Linked DNA regions of Homo sapiens. The protein of the gene in region 4 purifies or fractionates together with the protein of the main gene of each other region. This does not show direct contact. Each region holds a gene or a part of one and is shown on either strand. Other genes may lie near its edges. The genes, in order: SERPINB5, LYG2, HEPHL1, RAB11B, PI4KB, SH3BP5 and PLCD1.

Region 1 (3,500 bases), on a different chromosome or scaffold from region 4:
GAACAAATGCCAGCAAAGATGCAATTAACAAGAAAGCAGGTGATCAGGTGTGGCGGGGAAGTGCCAGGCTGGGAGCTAGAAGCAATGAATTCTAGGTCTGGTTTTGCCACTCTCACTCCCTGCGTGGGTGGCCTGGGAGACTCACTTCATCTTTGTCTGCCTCATTTTCCTCATCTGTAAAATGAAGAGGTGTGGCCAGCCTAGATCCTCTCCAAGATCTTGTCCCACTTTCAAGGTTTATAATTTGCACAGATTGCGAAAGCAAGGTACTTGGAAATAAGTTCTTAAAACTGCATTTGTATTACTGCTTGAACTTCCATCTATCTCACTTTCCTATGGTTAAAATAAAGTTCCTTTTAAACTTTTAAGTGCTGAAAGATGTAGCGTTTTCTACATTGCAACTATAAACGAAGTTCTCCTTGTTAAAATGGTTACAGGGTTTTCACAGAAATGGAAGAAGACCCTTGTGACAAGGCAACAGAATGAAAAAAAATTTGTAGCAATTTTAGCACTTTCAACAGAAGTCATTAGGCACATTAAATTTATTATATAGGAATTGCTAATCTCTACTCTGGTACTTGCAATTTTATAGCATTTGATCATGCAAAATGGTCTGTGTAGGAAGTTTGTATTTTTTCCAGGTCATGTATTGTTAACATTGCTGAGGTTTGTTTAAATGCTTTGATTGTCTTGCAACACAGTCATGTGGCAACTGTGGCCAAAGTCATCTTTTGAGCTACCTCAGACCAGATCAACTTTATAGTGTTTTTAGGTCACTTGGGACTAATCACAGAGCCACTGATCAGATTTACCGGGCAGTATTTGATTGATTACTTAGTGGGTGATTTTTTGCAACTACAACCTTTTCCATGTACAGACCTTTTCTGTTTCCTTTAGCCAGCATCAAACAATGCTCTTGCCACTGGGACCCCAGATACTAAGGGCTGTATGACCTTCCCAGACATGAAGGAGAATTTTCTGAGAAAGGAGCCAGTCAGCATAGGAACAGGAAGGCAGATCTCTTTGCGTTCATGCACTGAGGATTAGCATGCAAAGGAAGGGACTCACTCAAAGGGAAGGTCCGCCAATGGTGAGAGAAAGCCCCAGAGATGTTAGGATGTCAGATGTGCACTGATTTACATCTCCAACAGGGACCTGGATCTAAGCCTTGAATTGCAACACAGCATTAATTGTATTGTGTAATTAACTACACTAAAAGCCACAATGATCTTGTATCCACAATCATTTAGACTAAATGTATCTCAAAATGTTGTGACAAGTGAATGAATAATGCTTTAGTGAAATAAAATGGTAAAATGAACATCTCCTCACCATTTGATCCACTCCTAAGATCCATTTGTAGGTGTTTGCAGCCAAACTCCCTCAGCACATTAAGATCTTAAACACCATCTTTCTATACAAAGGAAATCACTAAAAGTATAGTTTGTTATTGACTATGCAAAATTATTCTAGTTTCTCTTGGAGGATAATAAATACGTGCTTGGAGGAGCTACTTGTGTTTGTTAAAGCAGTTTGTGTGTTTTCATATTATTATCAGTGCGATTAGCTCTCCACTGGTGGAAGTGTTAAGAAGCTTTCAGGGATCTGGGTTTAGGCTTCTCTATTTGGTGAAGAAATAACTCATTACTTCTTGTACATGTTGAGTTTTACTTGTAGATGAACTTGGCATTACTAATATTAAATGTGCTGTGGAAGGAAGCCAGGTTTCCTATTCTGAAAGTCTGTCCACAGATTCCCCAAACCTTTTGTGAAGAGTTTCTTTATGTTTTCCCAGTGGCAGGCACACTGGGTGAAACACTCAACAGGCTTTCATTTTTGCCTCAGTATACCCTGCTGACCTCAGTATACACCTAATGCCAGTCACCTTTCCCTGGGGTGTGATGTCACCTGTAGGCCCTTGCCCCTGCCCTGAGGGGAGAAGGAGTAAGGTTGTGGGCTTTAAAGAAAAGTGAGAGGCCCACCTGACTTCAGGGGGCCTCGTGGTATATTTGCAATGGGAACTGGCCTGAGCGCATGGCTGTACTTATCAGGGACATATGGAGAAGGAGGAAGCCCATGGAAATGACCAGTGAGCATGAACAGAGTCAATAAAACATTATTTTTGGATAATGAACTCGCTTTTTCAGACTCTGAGATATAATCGATTTAAGTCCATCCTACACACAAGCCATATATCCCATAAAAGGGAGAATTCTGAAGAAATGTTTAAAGACCAGGAGTCCTCTCCTCCATCTTATTCTCGTCTTTGCATTCTGAATTTGTGTCCAGGTATAAGGTGCAAATTGCAATCCTATTCATCATGCCTTTGACTCTTGACACACGTTTGGGTACTGGCCAAAGGGAGTCCTCTATCTTAAGCAGTGGAGCTTACTTTCTAATGCCAGGGTGCATGTCCTACCTGAAGACCTTCAATGTCACATTCGGCCCTTGTGTCTGTGTGTGTGCGCCTGAGGCTTTGGGGGAACACTTCGAGTTTAATCCCTGTACTGCTCACCCCGGGGTAGTAATATCAATTCATTTCCCTTAGAAACATGCTGTCCTGGCTTAGGCAGAACCTCAGGAGTTCATGTAGTTCAGCTCTGCTCCCAGAAAGGGAAGCCCTGACTGCCTGAATTTACCTAATTGTCTTTGGAGTCGATCAGTAACTACCAGACTAAATAGGTAGGTAGACCTTTATTAGAACAGTGAAGCTTTTTAAATCTGAGGACCCTGTTACACTCTTAAAAATTACCGAGGACCCCAAAGAACTGTTTCTTTAAAAAAAATGTAGATTATATCTATCACTATTTACCAAACTAGAAATGAAAACCAGACACATTTTGAAATGTTCATTTACTAATTTATTAAAATAATATAATAATTAAATACTAATATGAATAATATATATATTAAAAAACATTTTCTAAAGTGAAAAAATGTAATGAGAAGAGTGATATTGTTTTTCATTTTTGCAAATCTCCTTAATATTTGGCTTAATAGAAGGGATGTCATATAGCCTCTGGAAAACTCCGCTGTCTATTAGAGATTGAGAATGATAATGTCTTAGTATTATCATGAGAATAGTTTTAACCTCATGGACCTCCTGAAAGGGTGTTAGGGACTGCCAGGAGTCAAGACACAACACTTTGGAAGTTGCTGTGTTAAAATTAAAGAGCTCTGAGATGTGACAAGATGCCTAGTTGCTGCTATATCCACTTTACCAGGCTACATATTTTGAAACTGTTCCCTCTTTTCTTTAACTCCCATATTACTTATTATACCACTCACATGTCTTGGGCAGCTCTGTATTCTAGTTATTTGTCTGCATATCTGCCCAAAGAGACTATGAGCTTAGAGAAGGAGGAGGTCCACTGATCCTTGTAACACTCTGGGTAGTGTCTTACACACAGATGCGTATTATAAACGCAAACAATAACCGCTGCTGTTTATTAAGTATTGTTATGTGCTGGGTGTCCTGCAAAGGCATTAGTTACTTTAAG
Region 2 (3,921 bases), on a different chromosome or scaffold from region 4:
AAGAAACAGTTTCTTTTCTTTTTTTAACTTTAAATTCTTTTTTTTTTTTTTTTTAATTAGAGATGGGCTCTCACTATGATGCCCAGGCTGGTTTCGAACTCCTCCTGGGTTCAAGCAATCCTCCTGTTTCAGCCTCCTGTGTAGCAGGAACTGACTTCAGGCACACACTACCATGCCCGGAAAAACAGTTTCTTTTCTATTGACGTAGGGATCCGTGGTTCTGAAATGTTTGCTGAGATGGATTTGAGGGCCATAAAACCTTACCAGACTCTGATCAAAGAAGTCGGGCAGAGACATTGCGTGGACCCTGCTGTCATCGCAGCCATCATCTCCAGGGAAAGCCATGGCGGATCTGTCCTGCAAGACGGCTGGGACCACAGGGGACTTAAATTTGGCTTGATGCAGGTATTTAGCTAGAAACTTTCTATCAGCCCCACTGCATCCCTCCTCACAGAAGCTCAACCTGAACTAGAAATCCATTTGCAGTGCTTCCAAGCCCCAAAATACCCTGGCATCTGGCTACAGGTACTCCAGCATAATTTTTTTTTTTTTTTTGAGATGGAGTTTCATTCTTGTTACCCAGGCTGGAGTGCAATGGCGTGATCTCGGCTCACTGCAACCTCCACTCCCGGGTTCAAGTGATTCTCCTCCCTCAGCCTCCTGAGTAGCTGGGATTACAGGCACACGCCACCATGCCCAGCTAATTTTTTGTATTTTTAGTAGAGACGGGATTTCACCTTGTTGGCCAGGCTGGTCTTGAACTCCTGACCTCAGGTGATCCACCCACCTCAGTCTCCCAAAGTGCTGGGATTACAAGCTTGAGCCACTGTGCCCGGCCACTCCAGCATAATTTGATCTGGGATTTCTGTAACACATCTTTTTATTTTATTCAAGGCTTATTCATTATTAGATATATTTTAAAAAGTATTTTAGGAGTTTCATAACTACCATTCTGCAATAAATAATATGTAATACACTAAAACTGAGAAAATCTTATAAATAGCATTATTGTTACAGGTGTCCTCTTGGGGTTCATGAAGTAGTAAATTTCATCCATGTGGATCAAAACATGGTATAACTGTGCCCTACTTGAAACAACTTGTTCCTTTGGGTAAACTGGAGGAAGGGGATCCAAATTATCTGGATATTTGCTTCCAGGCTCGATTTTAAATTGTCTGTAGAAATACAGACTTCTGGCCTTCCCAGTTAGAAACAAATTTTTATCTGAATTAGCTGGATAATTATTTATTACTATAAATGTGTAGACTTTGGGTGTTATTTGTTTCAAAACAACTTAAATTTTTTTTTTGTATATTAGAATGTTTAGCTAAAACTATACCATGTCCATTTCTCCCAAACCTTACTTTGTTTCTCTGACTCTCATCTATATGAAAGAAAGAACAATAGAATTGACTCTTTGGGGATAAAGGCCGGTATCTATGACTTGAATACCAGGAGAGGAAATTAGGAATGGCAGAAAAAATGTGTTACCTCATCCAGATGCTGACTTTATTATCTGAATTTTCTAGCTTGATAAACAAACGTACCACCCTGTCGGTGCCTGGGATAGCAAAGAGCACCTTTCACAGGCTACTGGGATTCTAACAGAGAGAATTAAGGCAATCCAGAAAAAATTCCCCACGTGGAGTGTTGCTCAGCACCTCAAAGGTAGGCTGTATTCTGAGTACTTTGTTTAAATGAGCAATGAATGAGACCACTGAAGGCCAGTGTGACCCGAGACTCCCTGGGAGCATTTCCACGGGGTCAGCAGTGGCCCTGGGAGGAGCTGTCTAGAGGCTGCATTTGCATTCCCTGAACCACTGAGTTACTTTGAGAGGTCCTCCATCCTCAACCTCCATTTCCTCTTCTGCAGAATGTTGGGGTTCTTATTCATTGCTTACTGAGCTATTGAGTGATACCTTGAAACATAGTGAGACCCTGTCTCTACAAAAAAAAAAAAAAAAAAAAAAAAAGCTGGGCATGGTGACACACAGTCCCAGCTACTCAGGAGGCTAAGCCAGGAGGATTGCTTGTGCCTGGGAGGTTAAGGCTGCAGTGAGCATTGATTACATCACTGCACTCCAGCCTGGGAGACAGAGTGAGACCCCATCTCTCAAAAAAAAATTTATCTATCTATCTATCTATCTATCTATCTATCTATCTATCTATCTATCTGTTTGCCTACCTCTCATAGGTTTTTTCCTGTTATAAGAAACTGTCAACAACTTTCCAAATTGTCTGAACAATGTTACTCTGTGAGTATTTTCGGGACTTCAGGTGCTATATATCCAAGTGGAAATCTCTGCTTGGCTGACCACAGGCCCCCTCAAGTTCAGCATCTCCCAGATGGAATTAACTCACTAACTTCCCACTATAAATTTGCTCTTTCTTCTGCATTTTACATGTCTTGGAGGCACCATAATATAGCCAGTCATCCCAGCCTGAAAACCAGATTGCTTTCTTAGGCTCTCTGGTTCCTTCTCTCTTCACACCCAACCACATCAATTCCTATTAGGTTTGCCTCCTATTGGCCAATGTTATGTCCTCCACACTCTAACGGCCTTAATCAGAACAGTTTCTAGTCTCTACTTCAAGGTCCTTGAAGGCAGGGATCAGGACCAGGCATCTTCCTCTCTGGATATCAGAGCAGAGCACAATTATGTTAAACACATACATAACTACTAGAGATAAAATTCTAGGGTAAAATAGCACACACATGCATATGTACACATACCCAAAGAAATAAGTGTGTCTTGGGTACCTTGCAGTCAGTGTGGCACCTCTCCTGGCACATAGTAGGTGCTTGAAAACATTTCCTGAATGAATAAATGAGTGAGTGAATAGATGAGTGAATTATTGAATAAATGAGAGAATGTTACAAGCATTTTCAGCAGAGGATGTACTGGGAGTCTAGTTCTGCCAGGCCTGGATTACATAAAAAAGCAAATCTGATTTTTGCAACAAGAAAAACCAAAGACTTTGGAAAAAGAGAAAGAAAGCAATCTGGAATTTTCCCAGTGATTCTTGGGATAGCACGTCCTTTCAGAAAGGGAGGGAGAGGGAGGAGGATTTGGGACTGCCTGCTTTGGAAGATTTGCCTGGAAAGCTAACATCTTGGCAATGCTCATTGCTTATTTCTGTTGAAAGTTAATATTTGAGCCTAATTCTCTGTGTTTCATTTCAGGTGGTCTCTCAGCTTTTAAGTCAGGAATTGAAGCGATTGCCACCCCATCGGACATAGACAATGACTTCGTCAATGATATCATTGCTCGAGCTAAGTTCTATAAAAGACAAAGCTTCTAGGCAAAGCTCTGTGGGTGGGCCAGGTTGGCAGAGTGCTCAGATGGCCGCCTTTGAGAGTTTTACGTGAATGTGTTGTATACAACACTGGCAAAGAAATGATTAAAATCATGAAAGAAAATTCATTTCCCAATTTTCTGAATGAAAATAAGCATTGAAAAAAGGAAAGAAAAATAAAAGAAATCCATCCAGTTCACAATATGGTTCCTAGGAAACGGACATAGACATATATATAATTACTTTGCAGTAAATGTGAATATCATGGCAAATGGTCCCTAGGTATTCCAGCCAGGCTTCATTTTAGCCTGTGATTCCAATGCCCACCTACTCCCTGTCTACCAGAATTGCTAACAAGTTAAGTAAGCCTTACCCGAGCCTTTGTCTTTTTTCCAGTATCTGCCCAGAGCCCTCAGGCTTTGCTTATGAGAAGTTCCTGACTCGTAAGCCAGCCAATCCATGGGACAATGGAAGAAATAGGGATGGAATTCTAGCTTCATGGGAAACTGAGAGCCAACTGAGGTGAAGCTGTCATTCAAGTTAGATACACCAAGTCCTTCAAACCCACAGCAACCTCCTGTGTTTTCTTTTGTCTGTGAAGATCCAGGGACTGGCTTTTCTTAT
Region 3 (3,500 bases), on a different chromosome or scaffold from region 4:
AAAGCTATGGACATACATTGCCACATTCTCTTTTGGAAATTGTTATTCTTCTACACGAAGTGTATGAGTATGGCTCTTTCCCCATTCATCTACCAACACTGAGAATTATTAGTCTTTCTAATCTTTACTAATCTGATCAATGAACAATAGTATCATTTGAAAACTGTTAAGGTTTGAGTACTATTTGAGTACTGTTAAGGTTGAACCTCTTTTTCATTTGTTTATTGGCCAATATTATTTATTTTGTGAATAAACTATTTCTGTTCCTTGCTCATTTTCTATTGGAGATTTACTTGTTTTCATCTTTATCTGTAAAAGTGATTTACGTATTAATCTTTTGTCATATGTGTCACAAATATCCCTCCTGTTGCCATTTATCCTTTTTAAAAAAACTTTCTTTATGGTCCAATTTTCTGTACAGAAGCCTAAATGTTCAAGAGCCAAATCTATCAGTCTTTTCCTATATGATTCCTTTTGTGATCATTTATGCCTCAGCTCGTGGTTTTCCTCTGTTCTGCAGCTGGTATGCTGGGGCAATACAATGTTGATAACTGCAAAAGTGATATTTTCTACCCCAAGATGAAGGGTCAACAGAGGCGCTACTTTATAGCAGCTGAAAAAATTCTTTGGGATTATGCTCCTCAAGGCTATAACAAATTCAGTGGTCTTCCTCTAAACGCCTCTGGCAGGTAAGCACCCTTTGTTGGTGTTTCTAAGCCTCTCGTCAGAGAAGCATGTGTTAGGCTTTCTCTGTGATCTAATTTGTATTCCAACCACTGCTCTGATGAGCTTATACTGCATAGATGGCATAATGTAGCTGCTTAAGGTGTTCTTAATACTGCAAAAGCACTGCTGAGAACTGGTAGAATATTTTTTGTTTTGTGACTTGACGGCTGAATCAAAACACTAGATCATTCACTCATTGATCAAACATTTCTTGAGTAGGCACTATGTGCAAACTATAGTGCAAAGTGCCATTAGAAATACTAAGCTGACAAAGAATAGAGTAAGGCCTTTACACATATGGAGCAGACAGTCTTGAAGAGGGAATGACAGGAGATGGAGATGACCTGGCCTAAGAGGGTTACCCTTTTTGGTTCAAGGATATCCTGATTTAAGTTGTGTCCCCTTTATGTCCTACAAATATTCTTTTCCTTTCTATTCAGTAAAATGCCATTTTTCTTTCAAAGCCTTACTCTAATGTCACCTCTGAAGTGAAACCTTTGACTCTTGATATAAATGAATTATGTTCTCTCTGCGCTCCCATAGAATATACTATTTAAAAAATTAATCTAGCAATTTATTAGGTGGATCTGGACTCCTGTGACTTGTTAGTATATAATCATATGCAAAGTTGTCTGTGAAGATACTAAAAAATGTACAGTGTGATATCAAGAATCCTTTTTTATATTTAAGGGAATGTTTTAAAAATTCTCTTTGTGATCAATAAAACATCATTTGTTTCTTTAATTGTACATTTTATTCATTCATTCATTCATTCATTCATACTTTCACTCATTATTCTACCAAACGGATGCACTTGAACCCTGTCTAAAGAATTTGTGTGAACCATATGTGAAAGACTCTGATATCAACATTCTCTATTGACTAGTATTTCTCCATAAACAGAATAATGAGAATTAGCATTCAAAATTGTCTTAGGAGCCTTCTAGAATTCTGAAGTGCCTTCTGAAATAGGAAAGATTAAACTATATTCAATCAATGTTTAATGTGATATATGAAAGCACAAAGTGCAAGATGACATGAGGGATGCAAGGATATCTAAAGCAATAAAATGCAGAGGAAGAAGCTGGGTTCACAAGAGTAGAGAAGTAACTGCAAGTTACAAATAAAAGTGAGGTGAGTTGTCCTGGTAGTGAGTTATCTGGATGCTCAGAGAGAGCTAAGCTGGCCAGGGAACACATTATAGAGGAAGTGAGACTTAAGCAAAATCTTAAGGAGTGATAGAATTTATTTAACTGAATAGGGAAGAGAGGAATTTTAGATGGAGGGGTTGATGCAAAGCACCTGTGGCATGGGAGGAATGAACAGATGAGACTGCAGTAACAATTTGCATAGAAGAATGGGCACTGGCATGGAGAAATAGAGAATTGGGGTAAACGGGATATCAATTGCAGAGGTCCTTTAATCTTTTTGAACATTATTTGATTGGCAATTGGAAGCAATTGAAGATTTTGGAGCAGGTAAATAGCAATAACAATTGCCATTTTGGAGATTAATGTATTAAGTGAAAAAATAAGCACAGTCTTGGCCATTGAAAGTAATTTGTAATCACGGTCTTGGCCATTATGACCATTATGGCTTACTTTTGCACCAATCTAATAGTTGTGTGTCTATGCTGAGAAGAAAAGTGAATGAGCCAGTATCAGATAGAGGATGCAGTTCAGAGGTTCATATAATGGGCTCCACCCAGTGTGATTAGGGCATGAACTGGGGTCGTGGTAGTGGGAAGAAAGGAAAAGAAAAGATGCACAAGGAGGATAGAAAAGGAAGAGTGCCAAAAAATTTTACAAAGTAAGGATGAATGAGTTAAGGGAATGAAGCAGAAAAAGAAAATCTACGTGGCTGCAAGAGTGATGGCACCATTGATGGAAATAAGATAGTATAGAGACAGTATTAGTCAGAATTTATATTATCATATTCACGACTTGGAAATTTTGCATTTCATGCATATGGTTTATATGGTAGCCCTCCAATAATTACACTATTTGATTAACTAGACACTCCATTCCTTAATAATGCCAGAAATCAAAGAGCTTACTAGATGCAGAGAATATTCATATTAATATCAGCAAGAGAGAGAGGGATGCTTATTCTGCAGAGAAACCAGTTAGCTCTTTGTTACTTTGTAGAACACCATTCTGGAACTCTACTATTGGTAAATAAGGAGTTTACTTGTGACTGGTTCAGTGCTGGACCTCTTGGGAAGAAAGTACAATGGCTGAGAGAAATGAGCTTGAGTATCACCCAGCCTCTGAAGACTTTTAGGGCTGGTTAACTATTCCTGGGAACTCTGTCAAGGCCTGTGCTGTCTTTTCTGGGGACATGGGTGGGCGAGTGGACTAAAAGTGATAGAATGAAGTTCTATAATTAAAGTATTTGGTGGATATGTTGAGAAGTGTCCTCAATCACATTCCTATGTCTTTTCAGTGACTCTGATCTCTACTTCACACAAGGGGACAACAGAATAGGAGGAAAATACTGGAAGGTTCGGTATACTGAATTTGTTGATGCAACTTTTACTAAAAGAAAGAGACTCTCTGCTGAAGAAGCCCATCTTGGAATTCTTGGTACAGTAAAACCATCCCCCATGCATTGAACCCAGGGAGATGTTTTAGCTGGGCATGTACATCTGCACAGAATGACTCTTCTGCTTTACTTCTTTCTGTCTCTTTTCATTCTCTTCTCTCTCTTCTTCTGGATATTTTTTCAGGCCCAGTCATCAAGGCAGAGGTGGGTGATACCCTGTTAGTGACCTT
Region 4 (3,500 bases):
GCTGCTGCAGGAGGACAGCGTTTTGGTTGGTGATGAGCGTGAACACAGGGACCGCACAGACAATACCTTCCAGGGTCTGAGAGTCTGGAATGGAATCGCCCAGGGAGACATGGTGGGGTGCACCCCTCGTCCTCCCTTCTCTTGGATCTGTTTCGGATGTGCTGAAGGATTGATTCTGAGATGCGAGAGAAAGGAAGGAGTCGAGAATGACTCCAGGTTTCTGGCATGAGTGCCTGGTAGGACCAAGCCAAAGTTAACCAAGATAAGGAGGGTAGGTGAGCGGTGGGTGAGCAGGCTTAGGGAGTGATCGGGAGCTTGGCTCTGCTCTTCTGGGTATGAGGGGCCTGGGGCCCCTGAGGAGACATGAAGGAGACAATGGGCACGCCAGTCTGGGCTTCTAGGGAGAGAGGTAATATAGGAGTTACCAGCCCATGGCTGGTATTTACAGCCATGAGCCTGGATGGGGTCACCTGGGGACTGGGTGTGGACAGAGATGCCTGTCCTGAGGCTCCCTGAGGTTCGAAGGTAGAGTGGGAGACTGAGTGGGAGTGACTGTGAGGAGAGGAGTCGGGGTGTGGAGCCCCTGCAGGCAGGGAAGGAGGGAGAGCTGGCTGGGTGCCTGCTGCACAGGCCCGGGGGAGTGGGGGTAGCTGAGGCTGACACTGACTGTGGGGGCGAAAGCGTGCTTGGTTTGAGTTCTAGGACTGGGGGACAGGAGGTGGAGTGAGTGAGTGTAGATGATACCTTCCAGTGCCCGAGGCAGGAAGTTGGGTCAGGAGAGAATGTTTTCTAGAGGGAAAATTCCAAACGTGTAGGTACAGCCCCACAGTGTGGCCAGGGGAAGGGCAGAGGAGGGCTGCCTGGTGGGCTCCAGGGCCTGCTCCCTCAATGTAGCAGGGGTCCCGAGTGGGGCCAGCGGACCTCTGGGTCAGCCAGGGCTCAGCCTGGCTGCCAGCACCTCCCCGAGCTCAGGAGGAACAGCCATACCCATCTCTTCCCAGACAAGGAAGCCTCATCCTCAGTGGATGCCCCCTAACTCCCTGGGACCAGGGATGACCAAGCCACTGAGCCAACCCACCCTCAGGTGCCGGGGCCCAAGGCCCACACTTGGGGGTCCACGGGGCTTCTGGCTGGGGCGTCTGGTTGGCTGTATTCAAGTGCACACACACACACTGATCTTCCCCACATGGTATGTTCTGGGTCTGGGGACAGCTCACCCAGACCCCACCCCAGAGCCTGGGGCGGCTGGGCCCATAGGGACAGTGCTTCCATGGCTGGGACAGGAAACAGTTTACAAGGCAGCTCACCCCTGGCCTGACCAGCAGGCACCTGCTCTGCTCAGGGAAAGTGTTCCTGATGCTCCTTGGCCAGCATGAGACAGGCCTGCTGCACACCCCGTGTCGACTGGGCTCAGGCCCCCGTCCCTGGGTGCTGTTGCCCACAAACCCTCATCTCTGTTCTGTCCACGCTGCGCTGACTCCTTTCTGGGCCAGGGTTTGCATCTTGGCAAGCTGCTCTGCTGTGCACCCCCCTCCTGGGACAATGCATACCTGTGTTGGAGCCTTGTGAGGAGCTGTGCACACACGTGGACTGCCACACGGACTGCCCCTTGAATGAGGACTTAGCCTTGGCTGGAGCTCCCTGCAGCTCAGCAGGGGACCTGACCCTGGGGACAGGGGTGGTGGGAGGTGGCTGCAGGCTCTTTCCTCCGGGCTGCGTCCTCAGGGCACATTCCTGTTTCCCACTCAGCCATCTGTGCCGAAGCTGGATGTGGGTTTGCTGCACCAGGAGAGGTGGGGGTTGAGGTGGGAGTAGCTCCTCATGTCCTGTCACTTACATACCTGGAGCAGTGACCCTTCCCATGCCCTGACCAGAAACCACAACAACCGTGACAGCTGCCTACTCGTGTCCCTTCCTGTGCGATGCCTGCTCTTTTCGTGGGGGGAGACAGAATCTCTGTTGCCTAGGCTGGAGTGCAGTGATTCGATCTCGGCTCACTGCAGCCTCCACCTCCTGGGCTCAAGCGATTCTCCTGCCTCAGCCTCCTGAGTAGCTGGGGCTACAGTAGCCACCACGCCCAGCTAATTATTATTATTATTATTTTTTTTTTTGAGATGGAGTCTCGCTCTGTCACCCAGGCTGGAGTACGGTGGCGTGATCTCGGCTCACTGCAAGCTCCGCCTCCCGGATTCACGCCATTCTCCTGCCTCAGCCTCCCAAGTAGCTGGGGCTACAGGCGCCCGCTACCACACCCAGCTAATTTTATTGTATTTTTAGTGGAGATGGGGTTTCACCACGTTAGCCAGGATGGTCTCGATCTCCTGACCTCGTGATCCACCCGCCTCGGCCTCCCAAAGTGCTGGGATTACAGGTGTGAGCCACCGCGCCCGGGTACTTTTTGTATTTTTTATAGAGACGGGATTTCACCATGTTGGCCAGGCTGGTCTCGAACTCCCGACCTCAAGTGATCCGCCTGGCTCATCCTCTCAAAGCATTGAGATTACAGGCGGGAGCCACCGTGCCTGGCCATGCCTGCTCTTACTTCCTCCTCCTGTGACTGCCTTCCTGTTCACACATTTGGAAAAAGTAGTCCAGAGGTGAAGTGACTTGCCCAAGGTCACCCCGCTCAGGAGCCTTCTCAAGCCGTGTCTGGCTGCCCAGCCACCAGGCTGCAGGTGGAGGCTCAGGGTTGATGGATCTCAAGCTGCTCTGCCTGCCTGGCTGCCTGGGTCCCCTTGCCCCAGCTGGGACAGCCCTGCTCTGAGGACCAGACACAGGCAGGTGTTGTGCTATCCGCAGTGGCTGTTTCTGGAAGGCAGGAGCCTGCCTTCACTTCTGCACCACTTAGCACAGTGCCTGCAGGCCCTGGGCTCCAGGCATCTCTCGACTCCTCCACACCGTTGGCAGCCGCGTTGGTGCAGCACCCAGGGAACCGGCGGGAAGGTTGTGGGGGCAGTCGTGGGTGGAGTGTGGGGATTCACAGAACCTCGCCTTCCCGCCCAGTGGTGCTCATCGGGGACTCAGGCGTGGGCAAGAGCAACCTGCTGTCGCGCTTCACCCGCAACGAGTTCAACCTGGAGAGCAAGAGCACCATCGGCGTGGAGTTCGCCACCCGCAGCATCCAGGTGGACGGCAAGACCATCAAGGCGCAGATCTGGGACACCGCTGGCCAGGAGCGCTACCGCGCCATCACCTCCGCGTGCGTGTCGGCAGCCTGGGCAGGGACGCTGAGATTCGGGGGCGTGGGCTTGCAGCGCGTGGGCTTGGAAGGATGTGTAGGAGTTGGGCAGGAGAAGGGGAGAGTGTGCTCCCAAGACCAGGGAGTGAGGCTGGAAGAACGCTTTAGCCATGCGCCGTGGGACCCTCAGGCTGACCAGCGCCCAGCCTTCGCCACACCAGGGTATCTCTGGGTACCAAGTGCAGTGAGGACCTAGCTCAGGCCACTCCGCCTTGCCGCTGCCCCTGCCCAGCCAGCATCCCAGCCTTCCTCCTCCCTCAGC
Region 5 (2,556 bases), on a different chromosome or scaffold from region 4:
GAAAACCCTGTCAGACACGTGTTTCCTCATGAGGGAAATAACAGTCAGGTAGCTTTTAGACCCTGTGCTCATTCCACCCTGCGCTCATTCCACCCTGCCAGCCCTACAAATGGACCCAGGCTCTGCATTTGAGAGCTGTAGGAGAATGTAATATTTTTGTGTGTGTGTGTGAGACAGAGTCTTGCTCTGTTGTCCAGGCTGGAGTGCAGTGGCGTGATCTCGGCTCACTGTAACCTCTGCCTCCCAGAGTTCAAGTGATTCTCCCACCTCAGCCTCCTGATTAGCTGGGATTACAGGCATGCGCCACCACGCCCAGCTAATTTTTGTATTTTTAGTAGAGACGGGGTTTCACCATCTTGGCCAGGCTGGTCTCAAACTCCTGACCTCAGGTGATCCTCCTGCCTCAGCCTCCCAAAGTGCTGGGATTACAGGCGTGAGCCACTGCATCCGGCCGAGAATGCAATTATTTATAAGGAATTTGATTGCAAGCTTCAGACTATCTCAAAGTGTCAGGATTTTGAACTCAGGGCCCAGGGAGCCTAGAGCTCAGTCCTGGGATTGAGTAAATGGGTGGCAGGGAAGCTGGCACTAGTCAGGCCCCAGGGCTTTCCTTTAGGGAATTAGTATGTTTGGAAGATGAGAGTCCATCCTCTAAAAAAGAAGGGATAGAGGAGGGCAGGTAGCTGATAAGCCGTTCATAGTACCTCAAAAAAGAATAGATATAGTCGAGCCATGAATGGAATCAACCAATGGAAAGAAGTGGCAACAATGAATGAGGCCCCATACTGGAGTCAGGTTTTAGGATCTCTTTAACTGCTTCAAAAGTAGTCCTAAGCAGCTTTCCAGCTGGAGCTAACTCTGGTAGTGAAAAGAGAGGCTATGGCACCTTGGGCAAGTAAATCACTTCCTCTCTCAGGGCCTCTGTTTTCTTCACCTGTAAAATGTGAGGTTGAACCATGACAACTCCTAGAACCATTCTGGCTCACAAGATTGTGCCTGGATTGCTAAATCTTTAGTGTTTTCCCTGAGTGGGGAAGAACTCAGGTTGGACTAGGTTCTCCTTTTGTCCCTCCTCTTTTGGCCAAACCAACCCCAGAGAAGGTGGCCCTCAGACCATCAGCTCTTAGCCTAACAAAGCCTCTATTGACACTGAGTAGGCCAGTTATGCTGAATAGGCCAGGCCTCACATGCTTAGCATGTTAATTGTTCCTTCTGCTACTGGCCATTCATGTGGGAATCACAAAGACCTGGGATTTATCTCCCTTTAACTCTTCTACAGCTGCCCTGTAGTACTGCCTCATCCTGAGACTTTTTAAGTAAGTGATTTAAAACTTACCCCTTGAAGCCCCCACGCTATTTTACATTTCAGCTCCACTCAGCCTGCTTGCTTCTGTTGTTGTTCCCTTCCAGTGAGGCCTCTGATCTGCAGTGGGCTGACAGGAGTTACAAATAACCCACAGGTAAACAGGCTCAGAATAGAGCCTCCCCTGAGTAGAGCGCTTGGCCTCTGTGACAGCTGGCTGGAGCCTCAGAGGCCCTCTTTCCTTGCTTCTGGATTCTCTACTAGATTGGGATAGTTTGGGTGCCAGAAGTGCAATTTCTGGGAAATTGGGAGAATCTTAAACTATTTTTATTAAATTATTAATAGCAATTTCAGACCCCATAGCCTTTGTTAGCAGTTTTCTGATTTCCTTTCTTTCCACTGATAGCTTTAGGTCCTAGGAAACTGGACAGGAGATTGGAGTTACGGGCAGCAGGAAACATGGCAGGGGACCCCCCTCCCTGGTGTCATGTGGCCAGTGTATTGCTGCTTAAGGTTCCAGCCTCAGTCAGACTGACTACTGCCTCTTCCTCTCCTCTATTCCCCCTCCTCAGACACAATGGGAATATCCTTTTGGACGCAGAAGGCCACATCATCCACATCGACTTTGGCTTCATCCTCTCCAGCTCACCCCGAAATCTGGGCTTTGAGACGTCAGCCTTTAAGCTGACCACAGAGTTTGTGGATGTGAGTCAAGAAGGAGAGGTGCCTCTCGGGGGTCATTGTATTCTTTCTCTGTCATGGGAGAGGGAGCTGATGGGCTCCCTGCAAATTAGGGATGAACAGAACAGGCAGTAATTAGGGGTGAGGCAGGAGTTCCTGGGAGCTTCCTGCCCAATAAGGAAGGGGGAAATAACAGGGCCCCAAGAGGAGGAGGAGTTCTGGTAGGCCAGTCAGGACAGGGACCATCCCCGGTGTAAGACCCCTTGTGCACACAACGCTCTCTTCCCTTTCCAGGTGATGGGCGGCCTGGATGGCGACATGTTCAACTACTATAAGATGCTGATGCTGCAAGGGCTGATTGCCGCTCGGAAACACATGGACAAGGTGGTGCAGATCGTGGAGATCATGCAGCAAGGTGGGGCTGGGGTGAGGTCAGGTGCTATAGTGCCTCAGGCTTCCCCTTTAAGTCGGAGCCCTGGAGCATAAGAAAGCTGATCCCACGAGACTCGGTTGAGGGAGGGGGGTTCCCAGAGAGTTTCTAGCTCTGGTCCAGTGCCTTGTTTCTCCTTTAG
Region 6 (2,867 bases), on a different chromosome or scaffold from region 4:
GTATTGATCACTGAGGTTGTTTCCAAGTGCTGTTCTGGGGGGGCTCCTGGCTCCACTCAGCTTCTATAAAGTAGAGCTTAGGTCCTATGTCTCACATCAGAACAGTCTCCTTGGCAAGCACATAGTAGAGAGGTTTGTTTCTCAGCAATAAAGTGAATATGGCAAATTTCATCTCTATAGCTAAGGAATATATAAAACATCACAAGGAATAAAAGCAGTAAATGATTATGTACTGAGAACCTCTCTGATAGGCACGGTAGGTAACAGTGGGACTTCTACAGGGCTGAGTTAGCTGACTGGTTTGAGCTCAAGTGACTTAGAATTGTCAATACTCACTTTTGATAATCTTTGTATTTCTATAGGAGACAGGGCAGAATTGTCAATACTCACTTTTGATAATCCTTGTATTTCTATAGGAGACAGGGCAGAAGGGGCAGAGAATAAAACAAGTGACAAAGCCAACAACAACCGGGGCCTCAGCAGTAGCAGTGGCAGTGGTGGCAGCAGTAAGAGCCAAAGCAGCACCTCCCCTGAGGGCCAGGCCTTGGAGAACCGGATGAAGCAGCTCTCCCTACAGTGCTCAAAGGGAAGAGATGGAATTATTGCTGACATAAAAATGGTGCAGATTGGCTGATTCATCCTGGGCCCTGGCCGATGTGCATATCAACATTTATACATGGAACTGGAGAACATTGTGCCAATAATCATTTAATATATGCCAAATCTTACACGTCTACTCTAAACTGCTCTAATGAAGTTTCAGTGACCTTGAGGGCTAAAGATTGTTCTTCTGGGTAAGAGCTCTTGGGCTGGTTTTTCAGAGCAGAGTTCTTGTTGTGGGTAGACTGTGACTAGGTTCACAGCCTTTGTGGAACATTCCGTATAACGGCATTGTGGAAGCAATAACTAGTTCCTATGAAAGAACCAGAGCTGGGAAGATGGCTGGGAAGCCAGGCCAAAGTGGGGGCAACAGCTTGCTTCTCTTTCTCTTCTCACCCTCAGTTTGTATGGGAAAATGGAGATGTCCTCTCCACTTTATCCCACGATATCTAAATGAAAAAGAAAGAAAACCCACACACAAAGCAAAAACTCAAGTATTAAGAGCACATATTTTTGACCCAGTGGAGGCTTAAAAAAAAAAAAATCCAAGAACACAATTCATTTTCACCACCTCTGGTGTTCAGAGGGGGCTTTTAAAAAAGCGTGTATGCTGGGATACCCATTAAAACCATTTTCTAGAAGGCTACCATGAGCTGCACTTTTTGGGGTGGGAAAGGTGAATGCCAGTGGGGATGCGGGGGGATGAGGGTAGGAGGGACTTATAGAAGGGGATTTGTGGCTGTGGGGGAGAAGGTTCTACAGCATAAGCCTTATCCTGCCAGCCAAGGGGATTTATTCTAAGAGAAGTGCATGTGAAGAATGGTTGCCACTGTTATTAGATTGACAAGATGTTAATTTCTCTGTAGGTTGTAACTTTAAAAATAAATGAAATTATTTAAGGGTTATGCTGCACTAGTATTCCTTAGAGGAAACAGTTCTTTAAAGTTAGGAAAGGGAGTAGGCAGGCATGTGTTGGCAAAGGCTGTTAATAGTAGTTAAGTGTTAAGACTGCTTTTCTTTAACGTTTTCATGGTAATGCATATTTAGAGCACTGTATTTTTGTCTTGTTAAGAAAATTTAGCATTTCTAAAAGAAAAAAGCAACCCTCTTTCAAACTGTTAATTCTGTCACAGCCTGTATATTTTAGTCATTTGTAAATCTCTTCATACAATAGTGACTTCTTTTTTGACTGATACAGTATCTTAATTACAAGGTTATTTTGTACTTGTCTTAATACACTAAGTGTAATAAAAACGGCTTGAGAAAAGTTTCTCCTTTCTGTGACTTCAAATAAGAACTCCCAGTATTGCCTAAATCTTCTAGGCAACCCTTTTTCCATAAGGAAGAGCATGGAGTGCTGTGGTCACCAGTAATCATTTTCAATTAATTAAGGTCATGAACAGTAATAATTTAAGCCTTGTTTACCAAGGTTTGAATTCTACTTTTGCTGTTGCTAAAGCTGTGGGCAATGAGGAGACACAGTGGCAGATAAAGACGAGGTGGTGACGCTGGAGGAGTGGGCCTCGGCTGCACACTGCAGTCTCGAAGCTTAAGTGTTGCTGTCAGTCAGTTCTCATCCCCAGAGAATTATTTAATTAATTAACTGGGGGGGGTACACTGGGGCATTAGACTTTTAAAAGCTCCCCGAGGGAATTCAAATGTGCATTCAGAGTTGAGAATCAGATGGATTCTTTCTTTTGTGGAAATGTTTTATAATATTGGACTCTTAATCCGCATTTCATTATTAAAGCATGCTGTGGAGAAAAAGTTCTTGGTTGGCCAATCATGAGGTTTAAGTTTCAGAAATAACCCTTTGCAGTATCAAACAAGTGTTTTACCTAGTAGTTAATAAATATTTCATCTAGGAAAGTTCATAGAAGTCCCTTGTGCTATTTAAGAACATTAAACAGCCGGCTGGGCCCAAGGGCTCATGCCTGTAATCCCAGCACTTTGGGAGGCCAAGGCTGGTGGATCACTTGAGCCCAGGAGTTCGAGACCAGCCTGGGCAACATAGTGAAACCCAGTCTTTACCAAAAATACAAAAATTGGCCAGTCTTGTAATTTGGGTCTCAAGCAAGAACACTTAACAGCATACCTGAATTTGACTAGTGACCTTCAGGGTTCATTCAGTTCTCATAAAATCTCCTTACACCCTTTTACCTGTAGTAAAGACACTGAGACTTGCTTGACTTACCATTAGCAAAAACTTCCCTGCAATTGAGGCAATTCTTTTTCCTCCTAGAAGAAACACCATCTGGAAAATAGCC
Region 7 (2,824 bases), on a different chromosome or scaffold from region 4:
CCACCTAGCAACTGAAGGGGAAGATCCTGCTGAAGGGGAAGAAGCTCGGGGGGCTCCTGCCCCCTGGAGGGGAGGGTGGCCCTGAGGCCACTGTGGTGTCAGACGAAGACGAGGCTGCTGAGATGGAGGATGAGGCAGTGAGGAGCCGTGTGCAGCACAAGCCCAAGGTTTGAGGGGGAGCTGTGGGGTGGGGCAGCCCGGGCCTTCCCCATCCCCTCACCCGTGGGAGGTCTGCCTTGTCTCAGTTCTCTGTGGCTGCCACTCAGACCCTCTGCCCCGCTCTCTCTGTCTGTCTCCCTCTGTCTCTCTGCGCCTGGGTTTCTGGCTTTCTCAGTGCCTACCCTACCCCAACCACTGAATCTAACCCGGGCCTCCCCGTGTTCCCCAGGAGGACAAGCTCAGGCTAGCACAGGAGCTCTCTGACATGGTCATTTACTGCAAGAGTGTCCACTTTGGGGGCTTCTCCAGTCCTGGCACCCCTGGACAGGCCTTCTACGAGATGGCGTCCTTCTCTGAGAACCGTGCCCTTCGACTGCTCCAAGAATCAGGTGAGGCCTGGCTCCCCACCACTCCCCTGCTCTGTTACAGAGAGAATTGGCAGGGCAGGGCTTGGGCCTCACCAGGAGGCCTCCACTGCTGACCGAACCACACCTCCCCTCAGGAAACGGCTTTGTCCGCCACAACGTGGGGCACCTGAGCAGAATCTACCCGGCTGGATGGAGAACAGACTCCTCCAACTACAGCCCCGTGGAGATGTGGAATGGGGGCTGCCAGATCGGTATGGGCTGGCTGGGGCTGGAGGAGGCCTGGAGGAGGGTTTCAGTCCCAAGGCCGGGGGCCTGGAGCCTCGAAGGCCATGCAGTGGAGCTCTGAGGACCCAAGCAGGGTCAAATGCAGGGGCTTGTGGAGCTGGTAATATCAGTCTGGAAATATCTGCCCACCAGCATGTCACAGTGTCTGAAACCTCATTAGCACACTAGTCCTTTGAATTCTCACACCAGGAATGGAAGGTGTGGTTAGCATGGTGGGTCACTGAGGGTGGCAGGAGGGCAGCAGGCATTGGAGTGATGCTGGGCCCTGCTAACTCACCATGTGACCCTAGGCCTTAGTGTACCCTGAGCAGGCTGTGCTCTAGGGCCCCAGGGCCAGCCCACAGCCTGTGACTGCTCTGTCCTGCCTGTAGTGGCCCTGAATTTCCAGACACCTGGGCCAGAGATGGACGTGTACCAGGGCCGCTTCCAGGACAACGGGGCCTGTGGGTACGTGCTGAAGCCCGCCTTCCTGCGAGACCCCAACGGCACCTTTAACCCCCGCGCCCTGGCTCAGGGGCCCTGGTGGGCACGGAAGCGGCTCAACATCAGGGTACGCTGGACCTAGGAGGGACAGGTGCCCACGGACCTCCCTTCCCCGCTACCACTCCTGAACTGTCCATTGTCCTCTGCCTTTCCTCAGGTCATTTCGGGGCAGCAGCTGCCAAAAGTCAACAAGAATAAGAATTCAATTGTGGACCCCAAAGTGACAGTGGAGATCCATGGCGTGAGCCGGGACGTGGCCAGCCGCCAGACTGCTGTCATCACCAACAATGGTAGGTGCTGGGCCTGGGCTGGGCTACTAGGGCTGGTGTCCATGCTGCTGATATGGTGCCTGTCCCCCTAGGTTTCAACCCATGGTGGGACACGGAGTTTGCGTTTGAGGTAGTTGTGCCTGACCTTGCCCTCATCCGCTTCTTGGTGGAAGATTATGATGCCTCCTCCAAGAATGACTTCATTGGCCAGAGTACCATCCCCTTGAACAGCCTCAAGCAAGGTGAGTGTCAAGAGAAGGGGATGGCCAAGGTGGTGGGAAGCAGGGCCTGGCGTCTCTTGGGCTGGGGCTGGCTGTCCCTTGACGCATCCACCCCCCCTCCGCCGCCGAATGACCAGAACTCTCTCTGTGTTCCCTCCTGCCTGTCCACCCACCAGGATACCGCCATGTCCACCTCATGTCTAAGAACGGGGACCAGCATCCATCAGCCACCCTCTTTGTGAAGATCTCCCTCCAGGACTAGGCTGGAGGAAGCCAGTGGGGTCCCCCCTGAGTGGGCTGGGCCCTCTGTCCACATGTGGGGACAGGGCTGGTGTGGCTGCTCCCAGCCTCTTGCTCAGAGCTAGGCCCCCAAATTGCCTTCAGCCCTAACATAGTGTCTGCTGCTGCCTCCCTGGGGACCAGGAGCTAGCCCAGTCCCTGGAGCTGTCCTTCATTCCGTTAGGAATAACACTGCAGCCCTCTCCACCCTCCGGCCAGCGAGTGGTCAAGGATTTTTATAAAAATCACGATAAGATTAAGCCTTGTGGTCTCTTTACCTGGATGCCAGAAAAATCCCCTGTGAAGCGTGTGTGTGTGTGTGTGTGTGTGTGTGTGTGTGTGTGTGTGTGTGTGTCCCCATGTCCTAGAGTGCTGGAGCCCTAGCACCTCACTCTCCACCTTCCTTGCACATAGTTGAGTAGGGCAGGGGTATCTGGAGAGACCAACGAGAAATAAACCCCTCTGTGGGGTGGCACTGAGAGCTCACACCCGCCAGCCCTGGAGGCCCCTTCCCCTGAGAGGTGGACCTGCTGAGTGGCCCGGGCTTGAAAGCACGCATACCACAGCTCGTATGGGCTGCCTGCTTTTACTGACACGCAGAGGATGACCAAAAGCCTCTGAGGGGAGTGGAAGCAGGGCCTCCCCAGCATTGTAGGTATGTTGGGGTCCAGGGGATAGGGGCAGTCGAGAGGGCTTGGGTTCAGAAGAAGCCCAGCTGCTTTTTCTCCTGCCGCTGCCTCCACGTGGCCATGCTGTAGAA

Evidence for each region.
Region 1: the proteins of RAB11B (region 4) and SERPINB5 purify together in Homo sapiens (affinity purification with mass spectrometry; 2 studies listed by BioGRID and IntAct, with this or other methods). This does not show direct contact.
Region 2: the proteins of RAB11B (region 4) and LYG2 purify together in Homo sapiens (affinity purification with mass spectrometry; 2 studies listed by BioGRID and IntAct, with this or other methods). This does not show direct contact.
Region 3: the proteins of RAB11B (region 4) and HEPHL1 purify together in Homo sapiens (affinity purification with mass spectrometry; 2 studies listed by BioGRID and IntAct, with this or other methods). This does not show direct contact.
Region 5: the proteins of RAB11B (region 4) and PI4KB purify together in Homo sapiens (co-immunoprecipitation; 3 studies listed by BioGRID and IntAct, with this or other methods). This does not show direct contact.
Region 6: the proteins of RAB11B (region 4) and SH3BP5 purify together in Homo sapiens (affinity purification with mass spectrometry; 4 studies listed by BioGRID and IntAct, with this or other methods). This does not show direct contact.
Region 7: the proteins of RAB11B (region 4) and PLCD1 purify together in Homo sapiens (affinity purification with mass spectrometry; 2 studies listed by BioGRID and IntAct, with this or other methods). This does not show direct contact.

What each region holds. Positions count from the first base shown.
Region 1 is NC_000018.10:63,479,958-63,483,457, forward strand, and holds part of SERPINB5 (serpin B5), read left to right. Parts: intron 1-3,500. UniProt on the Homo sapiens protein: Tumor suppressor. It blocks the growth, invasion, and metastatic properties of mammary tumors.
Region 2 is NC_000002.12:99,241,746-99,245,666, reverse strand, and holds the end of LYG2 (lysozyme g-like protein 2 precursor), read left to right. Parts: intron 1-208; coding exon 209-405; intron 406-1,529; coding exon 1,530-1,668; intron 1,669-3,184; coding exon 3,185-3,303; 3' UTR 3,304-3,421; downstream 3,422-3,921. UniProt on the Homo sapiens protein: May act as a potent antibacterial protein that may play a role in the innate immunity.
Region 3 is NC_000011.10:94,069,854-94,073,353, forward strand, and holds part of HEPHL1 (ferroxidase HEPHL1 precursor), read left to right. Parts: intron 1-520; coding exon 521-689; intron 690-3,171; coding exon 3,172-3,311; intron 3,312-3,454; coding exon 3,455-3,500. UniProt on the Homo sapiens protein: Is a copper-binding glycoprotein with ferroxidase activity. It oxidizes Fe(2+) to Fe(3+) without releasing radical oxygen species. May be involved in the regulation of intracellular iron content.
Region 4 is NC_000019.10:8,396,860-8,400,359, forward strand, and holds part of RAB11B (ras-related protein Rab-11B), read left to right. Parts: intron 1-3,003; coding exon 3,004-3,199; intron 3,200-3,500. UniProt on the Homo sapiens protein: The small GTPases Rab are key regulators of intracellular membrane trafficking, from the formation of transport vesicles to their fusion with membranes.
Region 5 is NC_000001.11:151,293,861-151,296,416, reverse strand, and holds part of PI4KB (phosphatidylinositol 4-kinase beta), read left to right. Parts: intron 1-1,875; coding exon 1,876-2,008; intron 2,009-2,278; coding exon 2,279-2,399; intron 2,400-2,556. UniProt on the Homo sapiens protein: Phosphorylates phosphatidylinositol (PI) in the first committed step in the production of the second messenger inositol-1,4,5,-trisphosphate (PIP). May regulate Golgi disintegration/reorganization during mitosis, possibly via its phosphorylation.
Region 6 is NC_000003.12:15,253,853-15,256,719, reverse strand, and holds the end of SH3BP5 (SH3 domain-binding protein 5), read left to right. Parts: exon of another isoform or gene 1-416; coding exon 417-634; 3' UTR 635-2,367; downstream 2,368-2,867. UniProt on the Homo sapiens protein: Functions as a guanine nucleotide exchange factor (GEF) with specificity for RAB11A and RAB25. Inhibits the auto- and transphosphorylation activity of BTK. Plays a negative regulatory role in BTK-related cytoplasmic signaling in B-cells.
Region 7 is NC_000003.12:38,006,996-38,009,819, reverse strand, and holds the end of PLCD1 (1-phosphatidylinositol 4,5-bisphosphate phosphodiesterase delta-1), read left to right. Parts: intron 1-8; coding exon 9-167; intron 168-388; coding exon 389-548; intron 549-661; coding exon 662-778; intron 779-1,183; coding exon 1,184-1,362; intron 1,363-1,452; coding exon 1,453-1,585; intron 1,586-1,656; coding exon 1,657-1,806; intron 1,807-1,961; coding exon 1,962-2,047; 3' UTR 2,048-2,324; downstream 2,325-2,824. Other genes in the region: VILL (villin-like protein), read right to left, coding at 2,765-2,824. UniProt on the Homo sapiens protein: The production of the second messenger molecules diacylglycerol (DAG) and inositol 1,4,5-trisphosphate (IP3) is mediated by activated phosphatidylinositol-specific phospholipase C enzymes. Essential for trophoblast and placental development.